Homo sapiens: one gene and its partners. The protein of the gene in region 2 purifies or fractionates together with the protein of the main gene of each other region. This does not show direct contact. Each region holds a gene or a part of one and is shown on either strand. Other genes may lie near its edges. The genes, in order: ZNF609, KANSL1, THSD4, ECI2, YEATS2, KAT14 and DUS2.

Evidence for each region.
Region 1: the proteins of KANSL1 (region 2) and ZNF609 purify together in Homo sapiens (affinity purification with mass spectrometry, with the first as the bait; one large-scale study listed by BioGRID). This does not show direct contact.
Region 3: the proteins of KANSL1 (region 2) and THSD4 purify together in Homo sapiens (affinity purification with mass spectrometry; one large-scale study listed by BioGRID and IntAct). This does not show direct contact.
Region 4: the proteins of KANSL1 (region 2) and ECI2 purify together in Homo sapiens (affinity purification with mass spectrometry; 2 studies listed by BioGRID and IntAct, with this or other methods). This does not show direct contact.
Region 5: the proteins of KANSL1 (region 2) and YEATS2 purify together in Homo sapiens (affinity purification with mass spectrometry, with the first as the bait; one large-scale study listed by BioGRID). This does not show direct contact.
Region 6: the proteins of KANSL1 (region 2) and KAT14 purify together in Homo sapiens (affinity purification with mass spectrometry, with the first as the bait; one large-scale study listed by BioGRID). This does not show direct contact.
Region 7: the proteins of KANSL1 (region 2) and DUS2 purify together in Homo sapiens (affinity purification with mass spectrometry; 2 studies listed by BioGRID and IntAct, with this or other methods). This does not show direct contact.

The regions. Positions count from the first base shown.
Region 1 is NC_000015.10:64,501,676-64,505,804, forward strand, and holds part of ZNF609 (zinc finger protein 609), read left to right. Parts: intron 1-4,129. UniProt on the Homo sapiens protein: Transcription factor, which activates RAG1, and possibly RAG2, transcription. Through the regulation of RAG1/2 expression, may regulate thymocyte maturation.
Region 2 is NC_000017.11:46,169,229-46,173,357, reverse strand, and holds part of KANSL1 (KAT8 regulatory NSL complex subunit 1), read left to right. Parts: intron 1-1,125; 5' UTR 1,126-1,214; coding exon 1,215-2,503; intron 2,504-4,129. UniProt on the Homo sapiens protein: Non-catalytic component of the NSL histone acetyltransferase complex, a multiprotein complex that mediates histone H4 acetylation at 'Lys-5'- and 'Lys-8' (H4K5ac and H4K8ac) at transcription start sites and promotes transcription initiation.
Region 3 is NC_000015.10:71,240,820-71,244,948, forward strand, and holds part of THSD4 (thrombospondin type-1 domain-containing protein 4 isoform 1 precursor), read left to right. Parts: intron 1-1,829; coding exon 1,830-2,277; intron 2,278-4,129. UniProt on the Homo sapiens protein: Promotes FBN1 matrix assembly.
Region 4 is NC_000006.12:4,118,510-4,122,638, reverse strand, and holds part of ECI2 (enoyl-CoA delta isomerase 2), read left to right. Parts: intron 1-592; exon of another isoform or gene 593-690; intron 691-3,363; coding exon 3,364-3,453; intron 3,454-4,129. UniProt on the Homo sapiens protein: Able to isomerize both 3-cis and 3-trans double bonds into the 2-trans form in a range of enoyl-CoA species. Has a preference for 3-trans substrates.
Region 5 is NC_000003.12:183,808,954-183,813,082, forward strand, and holds the end of YEATS2 (YEATS domain-containing protein 2), read left to right. Parts: intron 1-143; coding exon 144-217; intron 218-1,065; exon of another isoform or gene 1,066-1,498; intron 1,499-1,521; coding exon 1,522-1,630; 3' UTR 1,631-3,671; downstream 3,672-4,129. UniProt on the Homo sapiens protein: Chromatin reader component of the ATAC complex, a complex with histone acetyltransferase activity on histones H3 and H4. YEATS2 specifically recognizes and binds histone H3 crotonylated at 'Lys-27' (H3K27cr).
Region 6 is NC_000020.11:18,164,911-18,169,039, reverse strand, and holds part of KAT14 (cysteine-rich protein 2-binding protein), read right to left. Parts: intron 1-4,129. UniProt on the Homo sapiens protein: Component of the ATAC complex, a complex with histone acetyltransferase activity on histones H3 and H4. May function as a scaffold for the ATAC complex to promote ATAC complex stability. Has also weak histone acetyltransferase activity toward histone H4.
Region 7 is NC_000016.10:68,057,303-68,061,431, reverse strand, and holds part of DUS2 (tRNA-dihydrouridine(20) synthase [NAD(P)+]-like), read right to left. Parts: intron 367-4,129; coding exon 319-366; intron 1-318. UniProt on the Homo sapiens protein: Catalyzes the NADPH-dependent synthesis of dihydrouridine, a modified base found in the D-loop of most tRNAs. Specifically modifies U20 in cytoplasmic tRNAs. Activity depends on the presence of guanosine at position 19 in the tRNA substrate.

The DNA of each region.
Region 1 (4,129 bases), on a different chromosome or scaffold from region 2:
CAAGAAACTCTTGCCATATATCCATATTCATAATCATTATTCTTCCTGTGCTAAAAAGTACTTCTGAGGATGACCTTCATTCTCCTATCTAAATTTTAGAGTACTTATGTTGCAACCTTCTAAGCCCAGTGATAGTCTGTGGATGAAAGGATTAATATTGCTTAGCTTTATGTTGGATTTAAGTGTAAATGTCCATGATTGTCTCTAACAGAGAAGCAAATGGAACCCATTTTCTCACATAGAGGTGCAGGGACTGATTGGGTGGCTGCCCTTCAGATTATAATTGGGCTGAAAGATGCAGTATGTTCAGCTAAGAATACATCCTGGTGCCAGGGAGTTTTGTCCCTTAATAATGTTGCTTTGCCATATAAGCTTTGCCTCCCAGGGAGACTCTGAGAATGGGGCAGCAGAATGAGAAAGAAAAGGGAAAGAGACTGTGCTTCAGTTTTTGAAAGATAGAGAAAATTGCTGGCAATTACTTTTAGAAGCAGAAAATTTGCTATACAGTTTCATGTAACCATAAGCAAGAACCTGCTTTCTCAATTCCTTCCCCTGTTCCCTCAACCCTTTTGGACAGTCTGGTCCTGAGGGTGCCTTTCCATATTACCTTTGGCTATTGAAATAAATAATTATTTAAATAAATGTTTGGAAGTTGCTAGGAGATTAAAACATGCTGTGCAGGGAGAGAACATTTCTGGACTGGGAGGAGCAGAAGAGGCAAGTTAAAGGAAAGGAAGTTAGGAACCATGCAGAGGAGCGGTTTTTGAGAAACAACAATCTCCGGTTTGGGGCATAATAGGTGCTCAGTGAGTATTTGATGATTAGTACTATAATTTATAAGCAAAGTCTTTGAAAACTTCTTTAAAATTTTCTCTCTGAGAAATGGGCTTGCCTGTGGTTTGGGACGTTTCTATGTAGGGATAACAAACAGAACCAAAATAGCAAAACAGATGTTTTGATATAATCTAAGAATTGCATCCTCTCAACTGGGAACTGTCATGAAGAGGAAGAACTCATAAAATTTGGGAAGTTTCTTGACTGAATTCTGTGGTGCAGAGTAGCAGTGTTGACTACTAGCCAATGAGGAAGATTTGAATATTGAAATTACTGGCTGGGCCTGGTGATTCATGCCTGTAATCCCAGCACTTTGGGAGGCCTAGGTGGGCAGATTGCTTAAGCTCAGGAGTTTGAGACCAGCCTAGGCAACATGGTGAAACCCTGTCTCTACAAAAATTAGCCGGGCATTGGTGGTGTGCACCCGTAATCCCAGCTACTGGGGAGGCTGAGGTGGAAGGATAGCTTGAGCCTGCGAGGTGGAGGTTGCATTGAGCTGAGACGGCACCACTGGACTCCAGCCTAGGCAATAGAGCCAGACCTTGTCTCAAAAAAAAAAAAAAAGAAAGAGAGAAATTATCTATCTCATGTTCTTCTTTGTGAAGGTAGATATCTCAGGCTATGGCCTGGGAAATTTTCTGTCAGACAAGGATGTGGATTTCCCTTCATGGGATCCCACTTTTGCTCGACCATACCTTCCTCTGACAGAGTGAGCTCTGTGCTGTTTCCCAGAGTTCTAGGAGAGACCAGAGATGGCTCTTAGCAACTGCTGCTGCTCTGAATTGTTATTGAACACTTCTGCCTCATACTTCCTGCCAGCTGAAGAGATGGGGGAGGGAATGTTGAGGAATAAACAAGACAGAGCCTTCCAGCTCTTGCCTGTTCCCTTGCCTTTAGTTTGATTGATGGATTGTTAAGTTAGGGATGGAAGGGGAGGTAGGGAGGAGGGCAGGCGCCTGTCTGAGTGTCCTGAGCTTAGTGCTTATGTCGCCACTCTGACAGGCAAGAAAAAAGGAATTTACAAACCACAGATGGCAACGATCTATCTGTGCTGACTTTGTCAGGGCTTACGACCAGGAGTTTAAGGTGAGACTCCTTCTTTTCCCCCAAATCATATAAAATAGCCAAGTAGGCTCTAGTAGTTAAAGAAAGGATCTAGAAGTTTCTAACCAGAAGCTCCCCCTCACATGTCTTTAGCTGCTGCTTTTGATCTTGCAAGGTAGGAACACTGCACTTTGCTTTTCCCGTGTTTGAATGTCAGCTTCTGCTGCTTTCAGAATGCTGCATATATTTACCACTTCCCCCATTAGTTTAGGATACAAAGAAAACCATAAAGTGTGCTCTTTGCTCTTTCAACTTCTGATCATGCATGCTATCATATCCTGTGTTCTTAAGAGCATCTTCCTTTGCCATTGGTTTTGTATTCCTGCCCTAATTTGTGCCTTCTAGCTTAGTTCTCTTGTATTGTAGTCCCTCATTGCCTAACCAAGGTCAGGTCTCTTTTATTCCTTCTGATCCAAGGCTTTCTTAACGCCTTCTTCCACTAGCTGTTATTTCTCAGCTATTGATGGCAGAGCAGTCAGCTTTGCTTCCTGAAACCAAATGCCCTCAAGATTTTCCTTCATGGAAAACATTAAAAAGAAGTTGATATTTATGTGGGACAGAGTTGCATTCTGTAACTACAAGCTTAATTTATTTTTTCATTCAGAAACTCTGTTTTCCTTCTAGGTGTTGTAATTCAAGGCAGTTCCAGAGAAAGATTATCTTGTCCAATTTCCTCATTTTATAGAAGAAACTAAGACCAGTGAAGTCCTGTGACTTGCCCAGCATCTCACAGGTAGTCACTGGCAAAGCCAGATTTGTAGACACCAAATTCTTATGGCATGTTGTTACTCTGGGATTCTTAACAAATCTTTAACTGTCAGGAAGGATTCTCAATTTTCCCACTTTATTTGTTATTTTCTTAGTATTATTATTTTCGAGATGGAGACTCACTCTGTCACCCAGGCTGGAGTGCAGTGGCACGATCTCGGCTCATTGCAGCCTCTGCCTCTGATTCAAGCGATTCTCCTGCCTTAGCTCCCCGAGTAGCTGGGATTACAAGTGCATACCACCATGCCTGGCTAGTTTTTTTTTTTTTTTTTTAATTTTAGTAGGGATAGGGGTTCACCATGTTGGCCAGGCTGGTCTCAAATTCCTGACTTCAAGTGATCCACCTGCTTCGGCCTCCCAGAGTGCTGAGATTACAGGCATGAGCCACCACACCCAGCCTATTTGCTTATTTTTAAGGCAGGGTCTCGCTATGTTGCCAATGCTGATCTTGAACTCCTGGGCTTATGCACTTCTGCCTTGGCCTCACTTATGCACTTCTGCCTTGGTCTCACTTATGCACTTCTGCCTTGGCCTCGCAAGTAGCTGGGACTACAAGTGTGTGCCACCACACCCAGCCATTTTTTCAATGTAAAGACTACCTTGAAACATTAGATGAAAATGCTTACATACTCCAAAATTGCTTTTACCCCAAAACTGCTTTCACTTGTTTTTCACAGTGACTTTAACATTGTAGACACTCAATAAACAAAGGATCTTTGAGTTTAGGATTTTAGGTAAGGTAATGAATGATGTTTGCAAAGAATAACCATTACAGCTGGCACTGAACCTATCCTGTTATTTATAAAGAAGGAAAGTTACTTTAAAACTGCTACTTTGAGCTTGACTACTTATGATATATGTGTGTGTGTTCTGGAATATTTCATCCAGCCAAATTTTCATTATAATAATTGAGGAATAGTTCTTTCTTTACTTGGCAATTGCAGGTAAGAAAAAAAACCCTGTTCTAGTGCTTCTTCCTTGGACACATCACTAATAGGCAGACCTTCAAATGTATTGTGGATATTACTAAGTATTTTGTAGAGAAGATATACTGTTGGCTAATTGTTATCACTTTTCATTCAGTCAGTACATTAATTGAATGCATTTTAGATACTAGGTTTTCTACTTGGTATTGGGTATACACTGGTAAATAAAACAGAGATGGTCTCTGCTTTTTGAGGAGCTTACAGTTTACCGTCTACAGCAGAGTTCCTAAAAGTGTGTCCCATAAAACCATGTACATCACCAGAGTATCAAAAATGCACATTCTTGGACCCTACCCTAGATATGCCGAATAAGTTTTTGGGGTAAGGGCCCAGAAATCTGTACTTCCAGAAGTCTCTCCAGATAATTGCTATATACATCAAAGTTTGAGAATTTTCCTTTCAAGGTAAGTATTCGGGGCCACTTCTCATTTAAAACA
Region 2 (4,129 bases):
CTGGAAGGAGAAAGTGAATTCTGAGCTTCAGGGGGCTTGAGGAACATAGAGGTTATAGGAATCTTGATTAGTGCAGCTCAGAAGTTTTTCTTATGGTTAAGAAACCTCACCATACTAGTGGTTGTTGAGAGAGAAGAGGGCAGAAGGGACCTTGTGCAGCACCAGCATTTAAGGGTCCAGGAGGAAGAGAAGAGGATGATAGTACAAGGACATCAGGAAAGAATTAGAAGAAGGTCGGTATTGTCCAGTGCTTCAGAGAAGTCAGATAGAATGGGGACTGAGGTTTGACCATTGGATTTGATAATAAGATTACTGGTCACCTTTGCCAGAGCAGTAGGGGGTGAAATCCAGATTATGGAAGAGTGAAGAGTGCAGAGACAGTTATTTATACTATTCTTAGAGAAGTTTTGGGGTAAAGGGAAAGAGAGATATTTGGGCAATTAAGTATGAGAGAGAGGCTGTACTGAGGGCAGAAGATACTTGAGTAAATTCCTAGGCTGAGAGGAAGAAGCCAGTAGAGAAGATATTGATGACCACTTTGATCTGAAAGAAAAGAAAACTGATGAAACAAGTTGGTATTACAGATGTGGTACAGTTAGCTTTGTAGTATAATCTATACTTCTAGAGAAGTGAGAAGCTGATGAAAACTGGATTCCCTGGCCAGAAAAATGCACAGACCTGTGATATTTGGCATACTTTTTTTAGTGAACACGGGAATTCCTTACTAATTTTTTTCTGTTTAATTATTGCTTAGTTTGATGTGTCTTGCTTTAAATCCATTTATTTCAACAAGCTTAAAGAGATTTTTTTTTAATGGAGATGATTTAATTTTAACAATCTGTGATTTTCTCTGAATCGAACTTGTGTTTTGGCACCTTTCAATCTGTGGTAACAAATGACAAGAAGGGTGCAATTCTTCCTTCCCTTGTGCAGGGATTTTGCCTCCCCCTTTCTCCCAGATGAAAGATATTTGGGTCTCTAGAATAACTGTGGTACAGTTAGCTCCAGAGTGTTTTCTTTCTGGAGGCAGTTTAGACAACAGCCTCAAGTAGTGCTTTTGTTAAAAATATACATGTTTTTAAAAGTGCTTGTATTTCTAATATTCTTTTCTCCTTTCTCTTCTAGTCTGTTCTCTGGGGAGGCAGTAAGGGGCCGTGGAGCTGGCCTCGGCCTCGGCATCGGGAGAGGCTGGACTTCCTGTCTCTCTGTGCTGAATGGCTGCGATGGCGCCCGCTCTCACTGACGCAGCAGCTGAAGCACACCATATCCGGTTCAAACTGGCTCCCCCATCCTCTACCTTGTCCCCTGGCAGTGCCGAAAATAACGGCAACGCCAACATCCTTATTGCTGCCAACGGAACCAAAAGAAAAGCCATTGCTGCAGAGGATCCCAGCCTAGATTTCCGAAATAATCCTACCAAGGAAGACTTGGGAAAGCTGCAACCACTGGTGGCATCTTATCTCTGCTCTGATGTAACATCTGTTCCCTCAAAGGAGTCTTTGAAGTTGCAAGGGGTCTTCAGCAAGCAGACAGTCCTTAAATCTCATCCTCTCTTATCTCAGTCCTATGAACTCCGAGCTGAGCTGTTGGGGAGACAGCCAGTTTTGGAGTTTTCCTTAGAAAATCTTAGAACCATGAATACGAGTGGTCAGACAGCTCTGCCACAAGCACCTGTAAATGGGTTGGCTAAGAAATTGACTAAAAGTTCAACACATTCTGATCATGACAATTCCACTTCCCTCAATGGGGGAAAACGGGCTCTCACTTCATCTGCTCTTCATGGGGGTGAAATGGGAGGATCTGAATCTGGGGACTTGAAGGGGGGTATGACCAATTGCACTCTTCCACATAGAAGCCTTGATGTAGAACACACAACTTTGTATAGCAATAATAGCACTGCAAACAAATCCTCTGTCAATTCCATGGAACAGCCGGCACTTCAAGGAAGCAGTAGATTATCACCTGGTACAGACTCCAGCTCTAACTTGGGGGGTGTCAAATTGGAGGGTAAAAAGTCTCCCCTGTCTTCCATTCTTTTCAGTGCTTTAGATTCTGACACAAGGATAACAGCTTTACTGCGGCGACAGGCTGACATTGAGAGCCGTGCCCGCAGATTACAAAAGCGCTTACAGGTTGTGCAAGCCAAGCAGGTTGAGAGGCATATACAACATCAGCTGGGTGGATTTTTGGAGAAGACTTTGAGCAAACTGCCAAACTTGGAATCCTTGAGACCACGGAGCCAGTTGATGCTGACTCGAAAGGCTGAAGCTGCCTTGAGAAAAGCTGCCAGTGAGACCACCACTTCAGAGGGACTTAGCAACTTTCTGAAAAGCAATTCAATTTCAGAAGAATTGGAGAGATTTACAGCTAGTGGCATAGCCAACTTGAGGTGCAGTGAACAGGCATTTGATTCAGATGTCACTGACAGTAGTTCAGGAGGGGAGTCTGATATTGAAGAGGAAGAACTGACCAGAGCTGATCCCGAGCAGCGTCATGTACCCCTGTGAGTAGACCTCATGCATGATAGCATTCTTGAGAAATGTTGGCACAAGGAAGAATGAATGAATCGCCATTATGGAGAGAATGTGATTCTTTGTACATAGGTGTCTAGGTTCTGTTTGTTTTTTCCCTGATGTTGGGTAGATGAGTGCATATACATGCTAGTGAAGAAGGGGAAGATACTTTTGCTGTAGGGTTGTATTGTTGTAGTCTAAATGGTGGTAATTTCCTTTTGAAGTCTAAGAAAAATAACTAGGAGACATCTTATGTGTAAAATTGTACTAGTACCTCTTTAAGAGTGAATTTAGATTTCTTTTGAAACTATATATAGGACATGATAAGTTAATGGCCTGATTGTTGAGATTTTGTTGTTTCCAGTAAGCAGGGACAAATGCTGAGTTGACCTAGTTACCTTTGTAGGAAATTACAGTTGCTTTTGATTGAACTTTCAGCAGAGAGCACACCCAGTCTTCAATTTTAACACTTGAGATTTTCTTACATTTTAAGGACTGACAATTAGAAAATGCTTCAGAATATTTAATACATCGCCTCCAAGCACAGTCTAGTTTCACAACCTGACTCTCTTCCTATTAAAAAAAAAAAAAAGCCCATTTTAAGCAGATTTGTTAAGCTGAGTTAAATGTATTGATGTATTTGGAATAAATTCTTACTGGGTTGTTTTTTTTGTTGTTTTTTGTTTTGTTTTGTTTTGAGACAGTTCCGCTCTGTCGCCCAGGCTGGAGTGCAGGAGTGCAGTAGTGCGATCTCAGCTCACTGAAGCCTCTGGCTCCTGGGTTCAGGTGATTCTCGGGCCTCAGCCTCCCTAAGTAGCTGGGATTACAGGTACCCGCCACCAAGTCAGGCTAATTTTTTTCTTTTTTCTTTTCTTAAGTAGAGACTGAGTTTCACCGTGTCGACCAGGCTGGCCTCAAACTCCTGACCTCGTGATCCGCCCACCTCATCTTACTGGTTTTTCTAAATCTGTTGGTTTGAGAAAATTTTACATAAGCTTTTTATGGGTGGCACTCCAAATTGGCATGGTGGAGACAGAGACGTTTCATTCCTGTCACTCCCAATTCAGCATCTATGTACTTAATTAAATAAAGCAGTACTATATTATAACATACTTAAAGATACATGTTAAATAAGTGCATTTATCTCCTTAGGAATATCAGATTTGAGAGAGAGCATGAGGAGTTGGAAAAGAGGGGCAGGATAATTGACTAGCAGATCTTTCATTTTCTCTTTGCTAGAGGCTGGCTTACTAGAGAAGGCTGAAAAAGATGAATATGTGGGAAGAATTGGTGTTTCCTTGACTGTATTAAAAGGTGATGAAGATTTTCACTGGAGTGTTTGGTTGTTGAGACAGCTATGATTTTTAAAAGTAAATTTTCTGGTTTCCCAATTTTGTTTATATTATCTGCATGGATATTGTATCTGAAATGAAACTTTTTTTTTCTATTTTGAAGGAAGAAATGGATAATTTTTGCTGAATTTCTTCCTTGTAGACCTAGTTCTATTATCATTTGTTAGTTCACTGTGCTCAAGTCCACTTCTGTATTTAGATTTAAAGCAAATGCTTCAGAGGCTTGCTTCTTCCGTAACCCATCTTTCTTTAAATGGATTAGTA
Region 3 (4,129 bases), on a different chromosome or scaffold from region 2:
CACACACACACACACACACATATATACATATATATGACTAACTTCTTAATTGCATCTCTTAAAACCCCCATCGTTAACAGAGTCCCAAGTGTTGCCAAGATTAATTGAGAAAGACCTAAATGCAAAATAAACACTGTGGCGTGGTTTAATTCCATATCAGCTAAGAATGAAGGTGCAATTAGTAATAAAGATGTTAATAATTAGTTGTGGTCTATTAAATTTTATGTTCAGTAATTATGTGGAGAGTGAAGAAAGAATTTTCTCATGAGGGCAGAAATCAATGTTTCACCTTGATTGCTATTTTAATGTGCTTATTTTAATGGGGCCATCCTGTAGAAACCCTTGGGCACATTTCCAATTTTACGTAAATGTAGAATTAATTATTATGGAAGCATATAATTTTAGAGTTGGAGCGACCTTGGCGGTCATTTAATCCAGCTCAGTCATCTTAAAAGTAAGTAAGAGTTAGTTGACTTACTTAAGTCCTTCCACAGAGATTTGGAACCTGCGCTCCTCAACTCTAATGCCAGTGAAGGCGAAACCTTTTCTGATCCCTTCAGACAGAAGTGCTTTTTCTTGCCTCAGAATTTCCCAAAGCAACATTTATTGTATGGCCTCTAAGGCCCTTACCCCGCCCTGCATTGTGATCTAGTTGCTTTCAGTTGTAAGGTTGGGGTCTTGAAAACTATGGATGATTAATTTTTGTATTTCTTCATCATTGCTAACTCTGTGTTTTGCAAAGAGTAGTTGCACAATAAATATTCATGCAGTGGTGTTCTGGAGCTGGTTTTTACCTGCTCACCAGAGCTCACTGTGTCTTCACATTGGTAGCTTGATATCAGCCATGATGGAAGTATTTACACCATAGGAGTGGGCAAATGCTACAAATCAGGGCTTCTACCCTGTCCTGCCCACGTCCCCCGCCCCACCCCACCTCAGGGCAGTGGGTCTTTACAAAAATCTAAAGATCTAAACCAGGCTTGTCCAACCCATGGCCCATGGGCGTCATGTGGCCCAGGATGGCTTTGAATGCAGCCCAACACAAATTCGTAAACTTTCTTAAAACATTATGAGATTTTTTTTTGCAATATATTTTTTTAGCTCATCAACTGTCATTAGTGTTACTGTATTTTATGTGTGACCCAAGACAATTCTTCTAAACCAATGTGAAGATGGCCATTTACCCATTGCTTTGCCTGGGCTACTTCAAGAGTGGTGAAGGAGCCAAGTATTTAACGCCCTTGAATATTTTCAGGATTAAAGTCAGTGCAAGTGAGGCCTTGGGACTGCACTAGAATTTGGTTGCTTATCTAAGTTCCATTACGTAGAAAAGCTCTTTGAGTATGAATAGTGAAGGAAACAGGGTCTGAAATATCACAGTTAGTTGAAGGAGCAAAAAATACATGATTAGAAAAAAAAAGTGAACAGGAAAGTTTCCTGTGGCTGAAATTGCAATCATATGTTTGTACTTCTCTGAAAACCTTCAGTGGCTCCCAGTGACCTACAAAAATGCCCAGACTCTTTGCATAAAAATTACACGCTGACCATAGTTTACTGTTCTAATCTCATTTCCAACCACTTGCATCATCCACTGTTCATCCTCTGTTGATTCCCTCTTTCATTCTACTTTCCAACTTCTGTGGAGCCTCTGTTCCAGCCTCCATGATGGTGCCTTCTAAAATGCGTTCCCCCTGCTTCCCAGTTCTACCATAGACCCTTTCCCAAGCTTCCGTTCCTACCTGGTCCTCTCTACCACGGACCAGAGCTTCTGAGTTAACATGAAATTCATCCGACTCTGATCATCTCCTCTCTTGTCTATCTCTCTTTAGGAGCAGGACCCGTGGTACCATTGGCCCTGGCAAGTATGGCTATGGTAAGGCCCCATATATCTTACCACTGCAGACAGACACTGCACACACGCCACAGAGGCTCCGGAGACAGAAGCTCTCATCCCGCCATTCCAGGTCCCAGGGAGCATCTTCTGCTAGGCATGGCTACAGTTCACCAGCCCACCAGGTCCCCCAACATGGGCCTTTGTACCAAAGTGACAGTGGCCCTCGCTCTGGACTGCAGGCTGCGGAGGCCCCCATCTACCAGCTACCTTTGACCCATGATCAAGGCTACCCTGCAGCTTCAAGTCTCTTTCACAGCCCAGAAACAAGCAACAACCACGGTGTGGGGACCCATGGGGCAACTCAGAGCTTCTCTCAGCCTGCCCGATCTACAGCAATCTCATGCATCGGGGCCTATCGGCAGTACAAGCTGTGCAACACCAACGTGAGTACACACAACCCATACCGGGCCTGGAAACAGCTGCCCCTCGTTTTTCTGTCATTTGGCACTAAGCATGATGAAGACAGCAAGGATATGGTGTCTGGGCCATGTTAACACACCTTTTAATCTTCCTCCTTTCTCTTTGCTTTCCATGTATTCTCCCTACATAGTTTTCTTTTTTTTTTTTTAAAGTTATTGCTTTAGTAACTTATACATTGCTTCTTGAATTGCTTATTGACAATCGCTTAATGGTGGTATTAATTATTAACAGCTATTGCTGCAAAACAACCTCCAAATTCTCAGTGACTTATATTAACAATATTTATTCTTTGCTCAAGTGCAATATATAAGTTTCCCAGAGGTTCTCTGCTATTCCAGGTGTAAACACTAGGTATTGTAGCATGAAGAAGTCTGAGAGTGAAGTTGTGAAGAGTCTTCTCTTAGGGGAAGAGCTGGGACAGCTAAGGTGATAGATGGCACACAGAGGCCTCTGGGCAGCAGTAAGTTCCTAACTGGTGTGGAAGTATGTTGTTATTTTAAGGACCTGTATAGCTGTACTCATGCATATATATACAGGTATACCCACTTTGGATATCAGTTCAATAAATATTTATTGATTTTATCTTCATGCATTTACATAATATCTACCATTATTAAAAACTCATAAGCCAGGCCTTGTGCTCAGCACTTTTTTTTTTTTTTTTTTTTTGAGATGGAGTCTCGCTCTGTCACCCAGGCTGGAGCACAGTGGCGCGATCTTGTCTCACTGCAACCTCTGCCTCCCAGGTTCAAGCAATTTTCCTGCCTCAGCCTCCCGAGTAGCTGGGACTACAGGTGCGCACCACTATACCCAGCTAATTTTTCTGTTTTTTTAGTAGAGACGGGGTTTCACTATGTTGGCCAGGATGGTTTCGATCTCTTGACCTTGTGATCTGCCTGCCTCTGCCTCCCAAAGTGCTGGGATTACAAGTGTGAGCCACCGCACCTGGCCTGTGCTCAGCACTTTTTCTACTAACTCCATTTCATCTCCTTAACCATGAGTTTGCTCTTCTCTTCATTTTATAGTTGCAAAGAGAGGTAAAATAACTTGCTGAAGATGCCACAGCTAGTGAGTAGTAGAACCAACTATCAATGTTAATTGTATATGGTGACCAAAGGAATTTTTTAAAATATCAGTTTAAAGACTGCGTATTAAAGAGAAGTGAATGAGAGGATGTTAAGAGGTTAAATTTCTGAGCCAGTATATTTTTCATTAATAATTTAATCTGCCTTAATACTCTGTTGCTGGGTAACAGGACAGCTGTTCTATATTAGCTTCAATTTCCTCATTAAAAATATATTTCCTGCTATAGAGTCCATAGAAATGACTTAATTTGTGATCTTAATAATTTCATTGAATGCCTGGGTTGCTTTTTAGCTTATTCTTCCACTGTCAGACTTCAGGAATCATTAATTTTAAAAAGCAGTAATTTTTCTAAGGCCATTGCTGATCAGTCAACCAGTAAGTCTTCATTGAGCATCATTGCTTGTCTTGTAACAGAGTAGGTGTCACGGAGAATAACAGAAAAGTCGTGGTATCTACCTCCTAGCATTGCTTTGAGGATCAAATGAGGGATGGTAGGAAAGTGCTTTGTAAATCAAAAAGTAAAGAATTGTTTGGTTTCATGGTCAGACATGCCCTTGTTCCTGAATATCTGTTGCTGTTCTTTTAAAACGAAATGAATTCATTTGTAATATACAACATATTCTCCCATTGAGTAGTGTATCTCTTAATTTTGAAGACCAAGCAAACCATAGAGAGAAAGTAAAAGAGAGGGCATTTGGCATCCGTGTGGAGCTGATGCCCGCTTAGCAT
Region 4 (4,129 bases), on a different chromosome or scaffold from region 2:
CTGTAGTCCCAGCTACTTGGTAGGCTGAGGCAAGAGTAAGGCTGGGCAACAGAGTGAGACCCTGTCTATAAAAACAAACATTCTCCTCCAATGTGGCAAAAATAAGTTTTACAATCTAGGCTGGGCATGGTGGCTCATGCCTGTAATCTTAGCACTTTGGGAGGCCAAGGCAGGTGGATCACTTGAGGTCAGGAATTCGAGACCAGCCTGGCCAACATGGTGAAGCCCCGTCTCTACTAAAAATACAAAAATGAGCTGGGTGTGGTGGTGCACGCCTATAATCCCAACTGCTCGGGAGGCTGAGGCAGGAGAATCGCTTGAACCCGGGAGGCGGAGGTTGCAGCGAGTTGAGATTGCGCCACTGCACTCAAGGCTGGGCAACCGAGCAAGACTCCGTCTCAAAAAAAAAAAAAAGCAAAGAAGGATTGGTTCCCATTTTACAAATGAGAAAACTGTGGTACAGAGAGGGTAAGAAACTTTCCCAACGTCCCTAAGTAGTCTGACGCCAGAGCCTAAACCCTTAACTCCACCTGCTGCTCTCTTTCTGAAAATCAGCATTTTAAATGCTGCTTACTGGCAACTTTGCATGTACCTGTTTGTGTCCCTTTAGCTGTTGTTGGCAGGTTTCTCAGTTTCCTGCTTGTATTCCTTAGGCTGTGTCTTCTGGGTACATTTTTTTGAATAAGTTTTCTTTTGGATAAAAAAAGAAGATACATGACATTAACAGAAACTTTTAAAAATATTGTGATTATTTTTATGTATATGCTGCATATGTTATAGATTTATATCTTCTAACAGTTATATAGTAAAAACAACAGCGTGTCTGATTATAGGAAATGAAATCTAAATATTCTTTTACATATTATGAATTTTAAATTAACATTCTTTCATAATTTATTCATTAAGAAACACAAAAATATGTCTTAAATGTAAAAAAAAAAAAAACTAAAAATGACTATATACTAAATAACCAATATTGAATTAATTCCAGTAGTTAAAGCCAACCAAAAAAACCACTGGGGCAAAATCAAGACAAATGACAGATTGAGGAAACAATTTTTCAACTCATGTAACAAAAGCTGATCTCTCCACGATACTTTTTAAAGTTTGTCTATAAAGCGATAGATCCACAAGCTAAAATAAAAATGGGCAATGGTGAGGAATGAATAGGTCAGACAAAATGAAATATAAAGGGCTATTAAAACCATATGAGAGAAACCACTGAGAAAATGAAAAGATAAGCCATAGACCAGGAGAAAAGATTTGCCTGACGCTCTAATAAAAGACTTGCAATCTGAATGTGTATCTTACAACTATATAATAGGAAGGTAAACAGCCTAACTTAAAAAAATAGTGGAGAAAATATCTTAACAGTTGCTTCACCAAAGAAAATATACGTATGTCTAATAAGTACATGGTAAGAGACTTAATACCATTAATGGTTAGGGACATGTAAATTAAAACCACAGTGAGACCCCACTACATACATACTAGCATGGTTAAAATGAAAAAGACTTAATAGCTAGGTTTAGTGAGGATGTGGAGCAATTGGAACTTTCATACATTGCTGGTGGGAATGTCAAATGGTACAACCACTCTAGAAAACAGTCTAGCAGCTTCTGAGCTAAATATACATTTACCACACAGACCAGCCATACCACTTAGGTATTTACCTATGATAATTTAAAAGAGATTCACCCAGTGACCTGTACACAAGTGTTCCTAACTGCCTTTTTGTTAACATTATCTGAACATTTTTATTTTTAAATTTTTTTTCAGTTTCATTGAGGTATACTTGACAAATAAGAATTGTACAGTCAGGTGCTGCATAACAACATTTTAGTCAATGGCAGACTGCATGTAAAACGCTGGTCTCCTAAGATTATAACACCATATCTTACTATACCTTTTCTTTTTTTTTTTTCACTCTGTCATCCAGGCTGGAGTACAGTGGCATGATCTCGGCTCACTGCAGCCTCCTCCTCCCGGGTTCAAGCAATTCTTGTGCCTCAGCCTCCCGAGTAGCTGGGACTCCAGGTGCACACCACCACACCAGGCTAATTTTTGTATTTTTAGTAGAGATGGGGTTTCACTACGTTGGCCAGGCTGGTCTCGAACTGCTGACCTCAGGTGATTTGCCCACCTCTGCCTCCCAAAGTGTTGGGATTACAGGCATGAGCCACCACACCCGGCCTACCTTTTCTATGTTTGATATATTTAGATACACAAATGCCATTTGTTATAACTGCCTAGAGTATTAAGTATAGTAACATGCTGTCCAAGTTGGTAGCCTGGAAGCAGTAGGGATTACCACATAGCTAGGTGTGCAGTAGGCTGTGGCATCCAAGTATATGTAAGTATACTCCATGATATTGGCACAATGACAAAATTGCCTAATTATGCATTTCTCAGAACATATCCCCATTGTTAAGCAACACACGACTAGATATATTTAAGGTGTTCAACTTGTTTTTCATAGCAGCCTTCTTCATAGTAGCCTTTCATACGTTGCTAGTGGCAGTGTCAAATGGTACAACCATTTGAATGCTAGAAACAACACCAATGGCATTAACTGGTGAATGATAAACATATTATTGTGCATCCATACAAAGGAATACTACTCAGAAATAGCGAGGAACAAACTACTAATACATACAACAGCATGGTGACTCTCAGAAGTCAGACTCAAAATGCTACAGAATGTAGGATTCCACTTATACAGCATTCTATAAAAGTCAAAACTGTAGGGACAGAAAACAGATTAGCAGTTGCTTGGGGGTGGGAGGGAGGGACTGACTACAGAAGGGCCCCCGGAACCTTTCAGGGTGGCTGAAATGTTCCGCATGTCAGTAGTGGTGGTGGCTATGTAACTCTCTATTTGTTCAAACTCATCCAACTATACACTTTTAAAGGGTGAATTGTGTGTGCATATTAACCACATAATCTTAATTTTTAAATAAATATTATTAAGTATTGTGAAGTTATAAGCAAATCGTGATTTTTAAAAATAACACATGAAGCCAGGCATGGTGGCTCACGCCTGTGATCCTAGCACTTTGGGAGGCCGAGGCAGGTGGATCACCTGAGGTAAGAAGTTTGAAACCAACCTGGCCAACAGGGCGAAACCCCGTCTCTACGAAAAATACAAAAATTAGCCAGGCATGGCAGCGCATGCCTGTAATCGTAGCTGCTGTGGAGGCTGAGGCAGGAGAATCGCTTGAACCCAAGGGGTGGAGGTTGCAGTGAGCCGAGATCGCGCCACTTCACTGCAGCCTGGGCAAAAGAGCGAAACCCTTTGTCTCAAAAAAAAAAAAAAAAATCACACATGAAAAGATGGTTTTCTTTTCTCTCCTGCCTCTGCAGGCAACATTTCATACACCATTTAGTCACCTAGGCCAAAGTCCGGAAGGATGCTCCTCTTACACTTTTCCGAAGATAATGAGCCCAGCCAAGGTAACTTTTGGAATGTTTAAATATAAAATTTTATGAGTCATCTCAAGAAAGAAGGAAGAGTAATCTCATATACTCTCCCTTCTTTCCCTTGGTAATATGGACAAAAGAGAAGCTAATGATTTGCTTTTCAACTCTTTAAGAGTTTTACCAATGGAGGAATCAGGCTATGGGAAGTATCTGCTATGCAGGAAAATTAGAAATTCTCTCTGCAGTTCCCAGAACTGGGATCCTCCTCTTCAGCTGGCTGCTTAGTGCTAGCTGCACTGCAAGCAGCACAGCACCTCAGCCTTGCAGCTGTGTGGCATTAGTCACTTGAAGGACCAGGGCTGTGCCAGCCTCCCTTGGTCCCCTGAGTTTGGAGGCCACTCGGTTCCTTTATGGATGACCAGTATCTCCTAAGGAGAGACATGATGACGTCTTCACTTTCAGAGTTACAGTAAGTACCAACAGATGGGAGGTTTTGTGGGGGCTCACGGCTGCCAGAGCCACCCCCAATCACAGCAGCCCTTCCATCAGCCTGCTCACGGGTGTATTCTCTCCCAGGCTGGTTAAGTGGCTGCTCAGGTCTTTCACTGTGTTTCCTAGTTGCCCACGCCCTGTGGCATGACTCGAAGGGGATTGTGACAAGACCAGAAGCTGAGCTATAGGAAAAGGCTTAGCAAATATTGCTGCAAGA
Region 5 (4,129 bases), on a different chromosome or scaffold from region 2:
AGGCCTTTAATTTTTTCTTAAGGACTTTTTAATCCCTAGTTGCAGTGGTTTCAAACATTTGGGGTAAGGGATGGGGTTAAATGTGTCCCTTCTTGCCAGCAAGCAGATGGCCATTTGAAGAATAACAGCATCTTCCATTGTAGGCTACAGAACAGCTGGTGAATGATATCCTGAGACAGGCTTTGGCAGTTGGATACCAGACAGCTTCTCACAACAGGTATTACTATCTCTGCAGTCTGTGGTGTGAGGCTTACACCTCTTTCCTAACAGTTGAATTGCCCATGAAGGTGTTTTATACTTACATCAATCCAGTAGGAGATGGAGTGAGTGCTTAGGACACTCTTAGAGCCAGATGAGCTCAAGGGTCTGCTTTGTCATTTTTAGAGAACCTCATGGTTGTGAAAGCTCACTCAGCTTTGCTCAGAGGTTTATATCCTCCTCATTACTTCACAGACACCTAGGACTCTGTTTTATTACAGGGTTGAATAAATATTAGCTTTGCAATTAAAGATAACAGTGTCCATTACATGTCAGACACGAGGGCCAAGCGTTGCATATATTACCTAATTTGTTTTTCATTGCAGAACTATTATTCTCTTTTTAAAAATCAGGAAACCGGGCTTTGAAAGGTAATTTTACCCAGCTTACCCAGCAAATACAGTGTAGACCTGGACTTCCGACTCAGGTCTCATTGGCTCTGAGGCCCCTGGGCTCGCCACTGCTCTTTGCTGACTCGTTGTCTTTGATTAAGACACTGAGTTTCAGTCTGTTCCTAGGCCCTGAAAGGATGGTAGATAGGCCACATCTGCTTTTCTTTCGGAGGAAACAAATATTATTTTATTGCATTATGCTAAAGGCTGTCACAGATTTATAAAATTGTAGCAAAGTGCCTGAGGACATGAAGGGCCTAAATCAGAGGAATAGTAGATGAAACTTCACAGGAATATATCAGACAACATAGGCGTCTTTAGAGAAAAGGAAGGGGAACCAAGAGTTCCGGTCCTGCTGCCCACTGTCCTGCTTGGACCCACAAGTGAGCCAGGGCCTCCTGTGGCCCCTGCTTACCTCTGTGCTCCCTGTCCTGGAGGGGTAGAGTGACTTAGGTGCTTTTGATGGAACGATTAACATCACGCCTGGCCTGGCGTGGCTCCGTCTCCCGTCTTTCTAGGAGATGGGAAATAAGGTCCCAGAGTTTTGTGGTGCTTTGACTCAGCTTTCGGTCTGCTGAGACTCACTCACAAATGTGTCATTCCGTTCTGCCATCCGCTTTGTTTTCTTTCTCTTTTCTCAGTTCTCAGAATCTTTTTTCCTAATTATTCAACCAACTTGTTGACATCCTTCTCATGCCTATGACAGGAAGGCAGTCCTCACCCCAGAGTGGCCCTAAGCTATGTCTGTGGCTCAGGAGCCCTCTCCACGGGGCCTCTGCCTGGGATGGTCCCTGTGATGAGTTAAGTGAATAAATGATGAGATATACGTGAGAGAATTTCACCTGGTAACACCCTTTGTTTTTTGGACCAGGATTCCCAAAGAAATTACAGTGAGTAATATTCACCAGGCCATTTGCAACATTCCTTTTCTGGACTTCCTCACAAACAAACACATGGGAATATTGAATGAGGACCAGTGAGCGGAGTGAGGTGCCCTGGAGAAGCAGGCTTTGAAGGCACAGCGAAGCTGTAACTGAGGACCCTGCTGCTCGGGAAGGAGGTGGTTTCCAGTGTGACTCGGCATGTCATGGCTACCCAACCTTTGCCGCTGCCTGTTCCCACGTGTCACCAGCACGCTGCACTCCAGATGAAATCCTCCTAGGACAGGAGTTTGTTTCCTGAGTGTGGAGTGAGGCTGTCAGTGGATCCGTGCTTTGTCGGCCAGCGTTTCTGCAGTCTTTGTAAAGGCCCCACGAGAGCGGGCCAGGCCGTGTGCCTCAGGCCCTTCTCCCTGGGTGTGCTTAAGGGGGCTCCTTGGGCCCGCCTCCCCAGGAGGTAGAAAATGAGTGGCAGGCTAGAGATTTCACCCATTTTGTGGGCTGGAGTTACCAGTAGCTCCAGCAGTTACCCTGAAGAGAGATTGGGCTTCAGCCTTCAGCAGGTGGTTCTCTCCCATGCCTGGCCTTGGTGTGGAGGGGCTGTACTCTGAGCCCAAGTGAGTCAGCTATAGGAAGAGGCCATACCTAGAGCCAAGAACCATGAAGGCCTGAGAGACGGCAGACTGAGCAGAATTCCTTTTTTGAGCACGAGAGCATTACTAGAACCATTGTCAAAGCAGTGGCAAGGGACGGAGAGGTCCCAACAGGAGTCAGGAAGAGGTTTGATTATAACCAAGAAAACTCACTATGCTAGGAATAGACTGTGTGCACCAGTCCCAGACACTTGGCAGAAGTGTAGCAGCGTTACACATGTGTGCGAAGCAGATCGCAGGTTCCACGCCATCTGCATGGCCTGCAGGAGCTTCTGCTGCTGACCCCATGCTGAGTGGCCAGTGGGGAGCGGCGCCCGGCAGGCTCTTCTGGGGTCGTCTGTCCTATCCGTGGATTGTATATACTCTTCTCTGTTAAGGAGTTTTTCCCAAGAAGAAAAGTATTTAAAAGAAATACCAGTGAGTGCCTTAAAGTTGGAGAAGTAACTGCCCATGCCCAGAAATAAGGATGCCAGTGCCCAGAAGCAGTGAGATTAGTCTGTGTCCACAAGCAGAGGCCCCCTCGATGGGAGGGAGTGGCAGGCAGGAGAAGGTGGCGCTGCCAGGTGCCCGGGTCTATTGGAGGCGCCCCATCTCAGACTTCCTAACACAGCCTGTGTGGAAGGCAGAACAAAGAATGCATGCCCAGTCAGAAATCTGTTCTATTCTGCTCCAGGAAAATCGGAAACCTGTGAGTCAGAGTCAGAGAAACTTACCCAAGCAACGTAATTCCTGTTTTCATGGGTCCTGTAGATGTTTGAGTCAGGAAGGTAAGGCGGGGAGTGACTGAATAAACTCTGCCTTTTAAATTGAGCATCTGGGCCGGGCATGGTGGCTCACGCCTGTAATCCCAGCACTCTGGGAGGTCGAGGTGGGTGGGTCACCTGAGGTTGGGAGTTCGAGACCAGCCCGACCAACATGGTGAAACCCCGTCTCTACTAAAAATACAGAAAATTAGCTGGGCATGGTGGTGTGTGCCTGTAATTCCAGCTACTCGGGAGGCTGAGGCAGGAAGAATCACTTGAACCCAGGAGGCGGAGGTTGCAGTGTGCCAAGATCATACCACTGCACTCCAGCCCTGGTGACAGAGGAGACCCCGTCTCAAAAATTGATTGATCAATTCAGCATCTGAGGGCTGCAAGTACAGAAGGAATCTATTCTCAGCAGGGCATAGGGCACGCACTGGCTTAACAGTTTAGTATATAAGGCTCAAATAGTCTATACCTGAACTGCTATAAGCAAGGTCGATAGGGAAGTGGATAGATTGCTTCAGCAAAGTGAACTGTGAGATCTCCAGGACAGAGGGAGAAAGATCTGATCCAAATGAGAACAGATTGGTTATTGCAGGTATCACAGCCTAAAGAAATTATCTTTTTGCAAAAGAAATATTAAATGATTTAGCAGTCTCCACGTGTGTTAATGTTTCAAACGTGTATCATAATGTGTATAATTGTGTAACAAAATTGTCTACAATAAATCTTTTGGTATTTGTGGTGGGTGTTTCTGAGTTTGAAGCATGGTACTCAGGCAGGGTTCTCCCTGCACTGGGATGAGGTGATGGTGTAGAGTCTTATTGATATGTTTAAATTAATTCCTCTACTTCTTGCCAAAAAAAAAAAAATGTTGCAACCGTATAAGATAAAGGATTACAGTTACATAAAAGTCTAAAAAAAATTTGGAAATGGACATAATTATTCCTGACAGCTTGGGGCAAAAGAAAACTGCATAAATGAGCTCAGAGCTTCCTTAAAGCCAAGGCAGAGAGAGAATCAGCTCCTCGTGTCTAACAAAGAAACATACCGGGTTATCTGGCAGGGTAAAATTGGACTGTGTTGAGGACTGAAACAAGTCACTCCTGTGACACGGTCCTTATGCTGTGACCATCTGCTAGCATATGGCTCAGAAATAGTGAAAAATCCAGAAACGTAAGAGCTGAAAGATTTTGAAAGCT
Region 6 (4,129 bases), on a different chromosome or scaffold from region 2:
CAGTAAAAACTTCCAAAACTGAAAAGCAAAGACAAAAAAGATGAAAAAAAAGAACAAAACAGACTATCCGAGAACTGCGGAAAACTACAAAAGGTGTAATAAACACACAATGGGAATACCAGAAGACAGAAAGGAATAGAAGAAAAATTTGAAGCAATAATGACTGAGAATATCCCCAATTTAATGTCAGACACCAAACCACACATTCAGGAAGGTCAGCGAACACCAAGCAGAATAAATGCCAAGAAGCATATAAAATACCTCTGACCAAAAGAACAGAGTTGTCAAGTAAGACAAATGAGAACAAACACAATTTCTGTGTTTTGGATGTGCTGGAAAATAAAATAATAGAAAAAAGAAAACAAAGCTTTAAAAAGAGAAAATAAAAGACACTTAACATGCACTAATTAAAGATAAAAAACAAAGAGAAAATTCTGAAAGTTTTAGGAGATGGGAGAATAAAACAAGGAGGCCACTTAATTGATAAGAAACAAAAAAAATTTTTTTTTTTTGAGAGAGAGTCTCACCCAATCACCCACGCTGGAGTGCAGTGGCATGATCTCAGCTCACTGTAACCTCTGCCTCTCTGGTTCAAGTGATTCTCAAGCCTCAGCCTCCCAAGCAGCTGGGATTATAGGCATGCGCCACCAGGCCTGGCTAATTTTTTTATTTTTAGTAGAGACGGGGTTTCACCATATTGTCCAGGCTGGTCTCAAATTCCTGGCCTCAAGTGATCTGCCTGCCTCGACCTCCCAAAGTGCTGGGATTACAGGCATGAGCCACTGAGCCCAGTCAAAAATTTCTATTTCTTATCAGTACCGGGGTTCTCAGGAGTGACACTGTATGTAAGATGATAATGAAGTCATAATTTCAAAATATCAATGGAAAAAACTAAAATAACAATTTTATATGACTGCTATCATTTAAATGAAAAAGTGAAATGAAGATATTCTTAGTCGTATAAGTTTTCAAAATTAACCTCAAAAAGCCCATATTTTTAAAGAACTGTTAGAGAAAGCAGTCCAGCAAGAAATTAATCTAGAAAGAAACAATAGGACGAGTGAATAATTTAGTAAAGATTTATGTCATTTAAATAAGCAATACAAAAGAAAAAAAGAGATAAGTGCATGAAAATGTACTTTTTTGTTTGGGGGGACAACCACATGATATTAAAAAAAGAATAAGGAAAAATAAATGTATCTTAAGTTAGGACCTATAAAAAGAATAAAAATAGAATGTATAACTTTCTTTATGGTACAGAATGAACATCACATAAACTATTTTCTCTGATCATAATACAACATTAGAAATCACATCAATTACCAAAACATAGCTTAAAATTCTCATATATCTGAAAACCAAAAAACAACTAAATAACCTTTGGATTAAAGAGGAAATAATGAGAAAAATAACAAAATGCCAAGTACTGATTGGAAATAAAATCACATCATTTCAAAAGTCAAGAATCACAGCTAAAGCAGCACTTATTGAGAAACTTATAGCTACGAATACATTCAAAGAATAAATATAAAACAAGAGTATGGATTGAATAAATGCATTTACAGCCACTCCCTGTGTAAATACATTAAAATTTATACTAAAATTCCAAGTTAAGACTGGGTTAAAACACAAGCATATAAAGCTTTACTACTTCCCAAAATCCCACTAAAACTATAGAAGCTGACTTAATTAGAACAGTAACTGGTAAACAGATGGACAAATAGTAACTGATTTAACACCAAAATCCCAAAGTGGCTTTGGGTAAGCTAAATGAGAACTAACCCAATCTATACTACAGAACCCGCTAAAATCCAGGCAGCAGCCAGCAGATTCCTCTGGAACTGGGACCAAATGGGACAATAAAATAAGGAGCAGGCAAACACCATGTGGAAAGCAGTATGATCCCCAGATCCTTCCACTCCCTGTTGCTGGGTGGCTGCCCTCCCCCAGAAGCCAGGAGGTCTGATCTCTAGAGAACTAACAGGGGATCCAGCTGGAGGGCTGAGGTGTGAGTACCTGACAAGCTGAATGCTAAGGTCCCTCTTCCCCAACTTGGCAACCAGCATCCTGAGCCCAGAAGATTATTCCCCAGGGACTCTGACTAGATTCAAAGAAAAAACCTAAAGGAAGTGCAGTGGTCCTCAACAGAGGTCTCACCTAGACAATGTGGCTGTGTATGGAATTCCAGGTTCAACCTCACTTAATGAGGGTCTTTTCAGTATGTTGGTCTCAAATTTTACTTCCCATGCAGCTTTTCTCAGGAAGTCATTAAGAACAAGGGAATAAACCTATAACAAGGTAAAGATGGGCCACAGGAAACAGGAGATCAAATACAGAGGAGGGCAAAAGAATCTCCAGAGAGGGGAGATCCCAACACCCCTGCTGAGTTTCACAACAAAGGGTGAACAAGTGTGACCCAAGGGGCAGACATAGTGTAGAAAGTAAAAAGTTTCCTCTTCAAAGTTTTCCTTCTTGTTAAAGAATAAATCATAAGTGTTAGAAATAACAGTTTCTTTTAAAGACTAACTTTCTTCAAGTCTCCTTGCCTTGTGCTAATAACTCTTTGTTAAGCCCTATCCTCTGTAACCGTTGGACATGCTCACAGGCACGTTCCAGCCCACAGTCTACGCCCCTTCCTTATTTGGAAATGTTATTGCTTCCTTAAACCTTTTGTAAGCAACTTCTTTGTTCTTCCCTGCACTTACCTATTTAGGAAAGTTTTAGGCTATTAGCAAATCGGGTATCAGTTTAAGATTGTGAGGTCCCGCTCCAGCCAGTGGATGCAGGACACAGCAGTAAGGACGACCCAAGTGCGTAAGGGATAAATATGTCTGCTTTTCCTGTGTTCAAGTGTGCTCTCACCTTTGTTCCATCTGCAACTGAGCACCCTTTCTACAGAAAGAAAAGATGGCCTTGCTGAGATACCTTTTGTCTCTGTGCTGACTTTTCTTCGCAGCACCGATTATCTATTTCTAACAATTTTGGTATTTCTAACACATATTGAGGCTATCATCCTTAAGTCCTTGCTGCCACTGACCATCTTTTAAACCTATGGCGTCGTGGCCCAGAATCTTATCTACGCTCAGCTTGTCTTCACCATGTACAGGTGAGCCTCCTGTACACCACCCATGCCCACCCCAAAGACCAGCTGATGATGCTCACTCCACAAATAACTGCTTTGACCTTCTGCAAGCTGGAAGGAAGCTGTCAGCTCAGGCAGGAAATACAGAGGATCCCACTTCCTCTGCCCAGATTTCTGCCGCATCTCTGGTATACATCACAGCCCTGGCTGATGCATACGCTATGGTGAGCCTCATGTTTCCCAGGACTCCCTAGTGACCTTGGCCAGTGACTACCTCAGAAGGGGTTCATGGAAGCCGAAGCCAGAACATCACTGTAAGTATTAGTTTCCCAGGGCTGTAGGAACAAAGCACCACAAACTGGGTGGCTTAAAACAACAGGAATTTATTGTCTCACAGTTCTAGAGGCCAAATGTCAGAAGTCACAGTGTGGGCAGGGCTATGCTCTCTGGGGTACGCACTAGGGGAGAATTTGTTCTGTGCCCTTCTCTTAGCTCCTGGTGCTGCCGGCAATCCTTGGTGGTCTTGGCTAATTATATTTGCAAAGGGCCTATTTCCAGATAAGGCTGCATTCATAGGTACCAGGGTTGGGACTTCAACATATGCTTAAGGGGGACACAATTCAGTCCACAACAATGACCCAGAATGACTATTTAGCTTATCTTCTCCAGGAAACTTCATCTAATAGTGGCAATTTACTTACACAGCTAGATTTATGCTTGCTACTCAGTATTTTTTTAAACGAAAAGTATATCATTTAGAGACATACACATTTAAAAAGCAAAAGAATAATTAACACTGTAAGTCAAAGTGGCTTCCTCTGAGGGGAACAGAAAGTACACAGGAGACTTCTAAGGTGTTTACAACACTCTTTATCCAGGAGATGAATACATGGGCATTTATTTTACTAATATCTAAATTATACCATATTTCTATGCTGCCTTCTATCTGTATGACACATCTTACAATTTAAAAAATTAAGTATAGGCAGTAAACAGACAGGCCCACAAGAATAAGAACAAAGAACAGGTGAATATTGGCCAGGCGCA
Region 7 (4,129 bases), on a different chromosome or scaffold from region 2:
CTCTCAAGACCTTCCCAGAAGGGAGACAGGAAATACAGAGGAGGTTCTCTGTGAGTCCTCAGGACCCCTGGCTCTTCATTGACATGTCTCTTGCTCTGGGCTTTTTAGGAACATCAAGGCTGCTGTAGGCTGGCTCGGGGGTTCCCAAACTTAGCTGCATGTCAAAATCACTGGAAAATTTTTTGGAAATCGCTAGGCCTCAGGGAGAGAAACTGGGTGGACATCAGTAAATCTGGTATTGGTGGAAGGAGGCGTTCTAGACAATTCTAGTTTGGAGCTGTGTTTGAGGACCCCTGCTTTCACTCGTGGAGGACTTACCTTCTCAATCTTGTCAGGGTCTGACAGCAGGGCAGCTCCCATTCCTCCCTAAGGAGAAACACACAAAAGGTCTTCTTACATCTGGGAGACACTATGGCCCTCTCCATGGGATGGGGTCTGGCAACTGAGCGTCACCCCGGCACTCACTTCCAAGGGACCAAGGCCCACTGGCAACCGGCACTTCTTTTAAACAAGTAGGAGGGCAGCAGTATCTGTGCCCATAACATCTGGGACTGAAGTGTGATAATTTTTTTTCTTTTTTTTTTGAGACAGATTCTCGCTCTGTCACCCAGGCTGGAGTGCAGTGGCGCAATCTCGGCTCACTGCAACCTCCACCTCCCCAGTTCAAGTGATTCTCCTTCCTCTGCATCCTGAGTAGCCAGGATTGCAGGCATGCACAACCACACCTAGCTAATTTTTTAATATATTTTTAGTAGAGACAGGGTTTCACCATGTTGGCCAGGCTGGCCAGACCAGAGTGATGACTTTTAAAATGTATAGGCTGGGCGTGGTGGCTCACGCCTGTAATTCCAGCACTTTGGGAAGCTGAGTCAGGTGGATTACCTGAGGTCAGGAGTTCGAGACCAGCCTGGCTAACATGGTGAAATCCAGTCTCTACCAAAAATACAAAAATTAGCCGAGCATGGAGGTGTGTGCCTGTAGTCCCAGCTATTCAGGAGGCTGAGGCAGAAGAATTGCTTGAACCCAGGAGGTGGAGGTTGCAGTGAGCCGAGATTGCACCACTGTACCCTAGCCTGGTTGACAGGGCAAGACTCCATCTCAAACAAACAAACAAACAAAAAAGTCATCATTCTGATCCCCTTGGTAAATCCCACAAATCTATCTAGAGTGGGCTATATAAAACTTATTTTTCAAGACTGCCCACTCCCTAACCCAGGTCTCAGTGTCTTAATAAACTAAATCCCACCATCTCCCAAGCCCTTAAAAAACAATGAATCATCCTTCATTTGAAATAAGATCAAATGTGCCTTCTTCCTATCATACTCAATGCTTGCATAGGCATCAACACCACCAGCAAAGCTACTAAGGTGCACACAACTTACAAACCTTGTCTAGGCCCTTCTCTTCTGCCAGCAACAATGTCCCAGCCCAGACCCATGCCCAACTCTAACCAAAGCCCCAGGAAATGGAAACTACCAACCCACACAACCACTTGAATCTTGATAATAGTAATGGTGGTTGCTTTTTATTGTGAGTTACTGGTGATTTTCCTGCTCTTTTCTGTACTTGTCTATATTTTCCAACTTCTAGACAATGGTATTAATTACTTTAATAATGGAGGAGGGGGATCTTTAAAAATCTGAATCCATTAAGAGTGAGATGAAGGCAAAAAAAACAATTCCAATAAATATATGCTGCCAGTATAAAGATTACATACTAATGAATGCTCACAGAATGTGCTCAGAAGGTGTAAGTTCAGTTATTACACTTTAATTTCATGTTTAAGGATGATAAATTGGAATCAGAGAGAACATTAAACCACCACAGACTCGGCCAGGCTGAGCCTGGATTTTAAAGAAGAATGGGTAGACTGGAAAATCCACCAAGCCTGGACTACATTGGTCATAAAAGAAACCTTGAAGGCCTTGAGGAAGCCCCAGCACTCCCCCTGGCTCCATCTGTCCTTCCACTCACACGTATCCAGCCCTTCCTTATAGAATCACAGGATCTAAAATTCAGTTTCACTGCCCCTTCCACAATAATAGCTTTCTCAACAATGGAATTTCCTTCCTTCCTTCGTTTCTATTAAACTTACTTGCTTTTTTGAATAGGTAAAACATTCAAAATTTGAGAGATTCAAATGGGTAACGAGTAAGAAGTCTCCCTGCCTAAGGAATGGGAAATGTTTCAATCTATACTTTTTTTTTTCTTTTGTTTCTCATATAGGGTCTCACTCTGTGGCCCAGGGTGGACTGCAGTGGCGTGATCTTGGCTCACTGCGACCTCTGCCTCTGGGGTTCATGCAATTCTCCTGCCTCAGCCTCCCAAGTAGCTGGGACTACAGGTGTCTGCCACCATACCTGGCTAATTTTTATATTTTTTGGTAGACATGCGGTTTCATTCTTTTGGCCAGACTGGTCTTGAACTCCTGACCTCAGGTGATCTGCCCGCCTCAGCCTCCCAAAGTGCTGGGATTACAGGCATCGGCCACCAAGCCCAGCCTCAATCTATGCTTTTTATCTGGCTTCAATTTTTGAACCATGAGAACACAGCAGATATTCAGCTAGTATGTACATGTGTGGCATATTGATTGGTGTCTCTTCTGACTGATCAGTGCCAGTGCTGTGCCAGTTAATTATTTTCAGTAGCACCCCTGTAATGGGAATTTACTACCTATGCATAACCAGATAAAAACTTAAGTTTCCTTCCCCAGAGGAAATCAATGTTACTAGTTTCTTCTGTGTCTCTCCAAAAATCTTCCCTGAATAAACAAATAAATATATATAATCATTCCCTATCCTCCTTATATAAATGGTATATACCACCTTACCCTGCCTCCAGATCATTTTAACTCTGCTCCTCACATAATTTAGGAACACAAAGAAGTAATCAGAAAACAGCAAAACCACCGGGCACAGTGGCTCACACCTGTAATCCCTGCACTTTGGGAGGCCGAGGCAGGTGGATCACGAGGTCAGGCGTTCAAGACCAGCCTGGCTAACATGGCAAAACCCCGTCTCTACTAAAAATACAAAAAAAATTAGTTGGGTGTGGTGGCGGGCACCTGTAGTCCCAGCTACTCAGGAGGCTGAGGCAGGAGAATCGCTTGAACCCAGGAGACGGAGGTTGCAGTCAGCCGAGATTGCACTGCTACACTCCAGCCTGCACGACAAGAGTGAGACTCCATCTCAAAAAAAAAAAAAAGCCCAAAGATACCTAAAGTCCAAGTCCAGCTGATCTTTTACCAACCAAGGTTTTCGATCCTGCAGTCTGCTTCTTCTTCATCATCTCCCACTCGACAAACCTCTGGTCAAATCGGGCTACTCAGGCCTCCCTGTGTCTACCTCATATTCATCCCCAGGCCCCTGCTTATACCACACCCTCTGCTTACAGGGTCCTAAATCTCAGCCCAAGGACAATATTTCCCTATCAAATTCCAAGTTTAAAGGCTGCCTTTCCACTCCCTTCTCTGGGCTACCATAGTCTGATCTCTTCTGATACGACAATGGGAACATTTACACTGCATCCACTTTTTTTTTTTTTTTTTTTTTGAGACAGATTTTCGCTCTTGTCACCCAGGCTGCAGTGCAGTGGCATGATCTTGCTCACTGCAACCTCCGTCTCCCAGGTTCAAGCGATTCTCCTGCCTTAGCCTCCCAAGTAGCTGGGATTACAGGCACACACCACCACGCCCAGCTAATTGCTTGTAATTTTAGTAGAGACAAGGTTTCACCATGTTGGTTAGGCTGGTCTCAAACTCCTGACCTCAGGTGATCTGACCACCTCAGCCTCCCAAAGTGCTGGGATTACAGGCATGAGCCACCAGGCCTGGCCTTTTTTTTTTAAACTTTTGAAAATTTTTATAGAGACAGGGTTTCACTCTGTTGCCCAGACTCATCTCAATCTCCTGGGATCAAGTGATCCTCCTGCATCAGCCTCCCAAATTGCTAGGATTACATGTGTGGGCCACCACTCCCGGCCTCCTCTCTTTTTTTTAAATGTATGTCTCAGTTGTTTTCCCTTTTTTTTTTTTATAATCCTCCTCTGGGCTTTCTGGGATATGTGTCTCAGTCTTATTCATGAAAAGACACAGCCCTGTCCCCTCTATTTTTCTCTGTACCTTTGCATT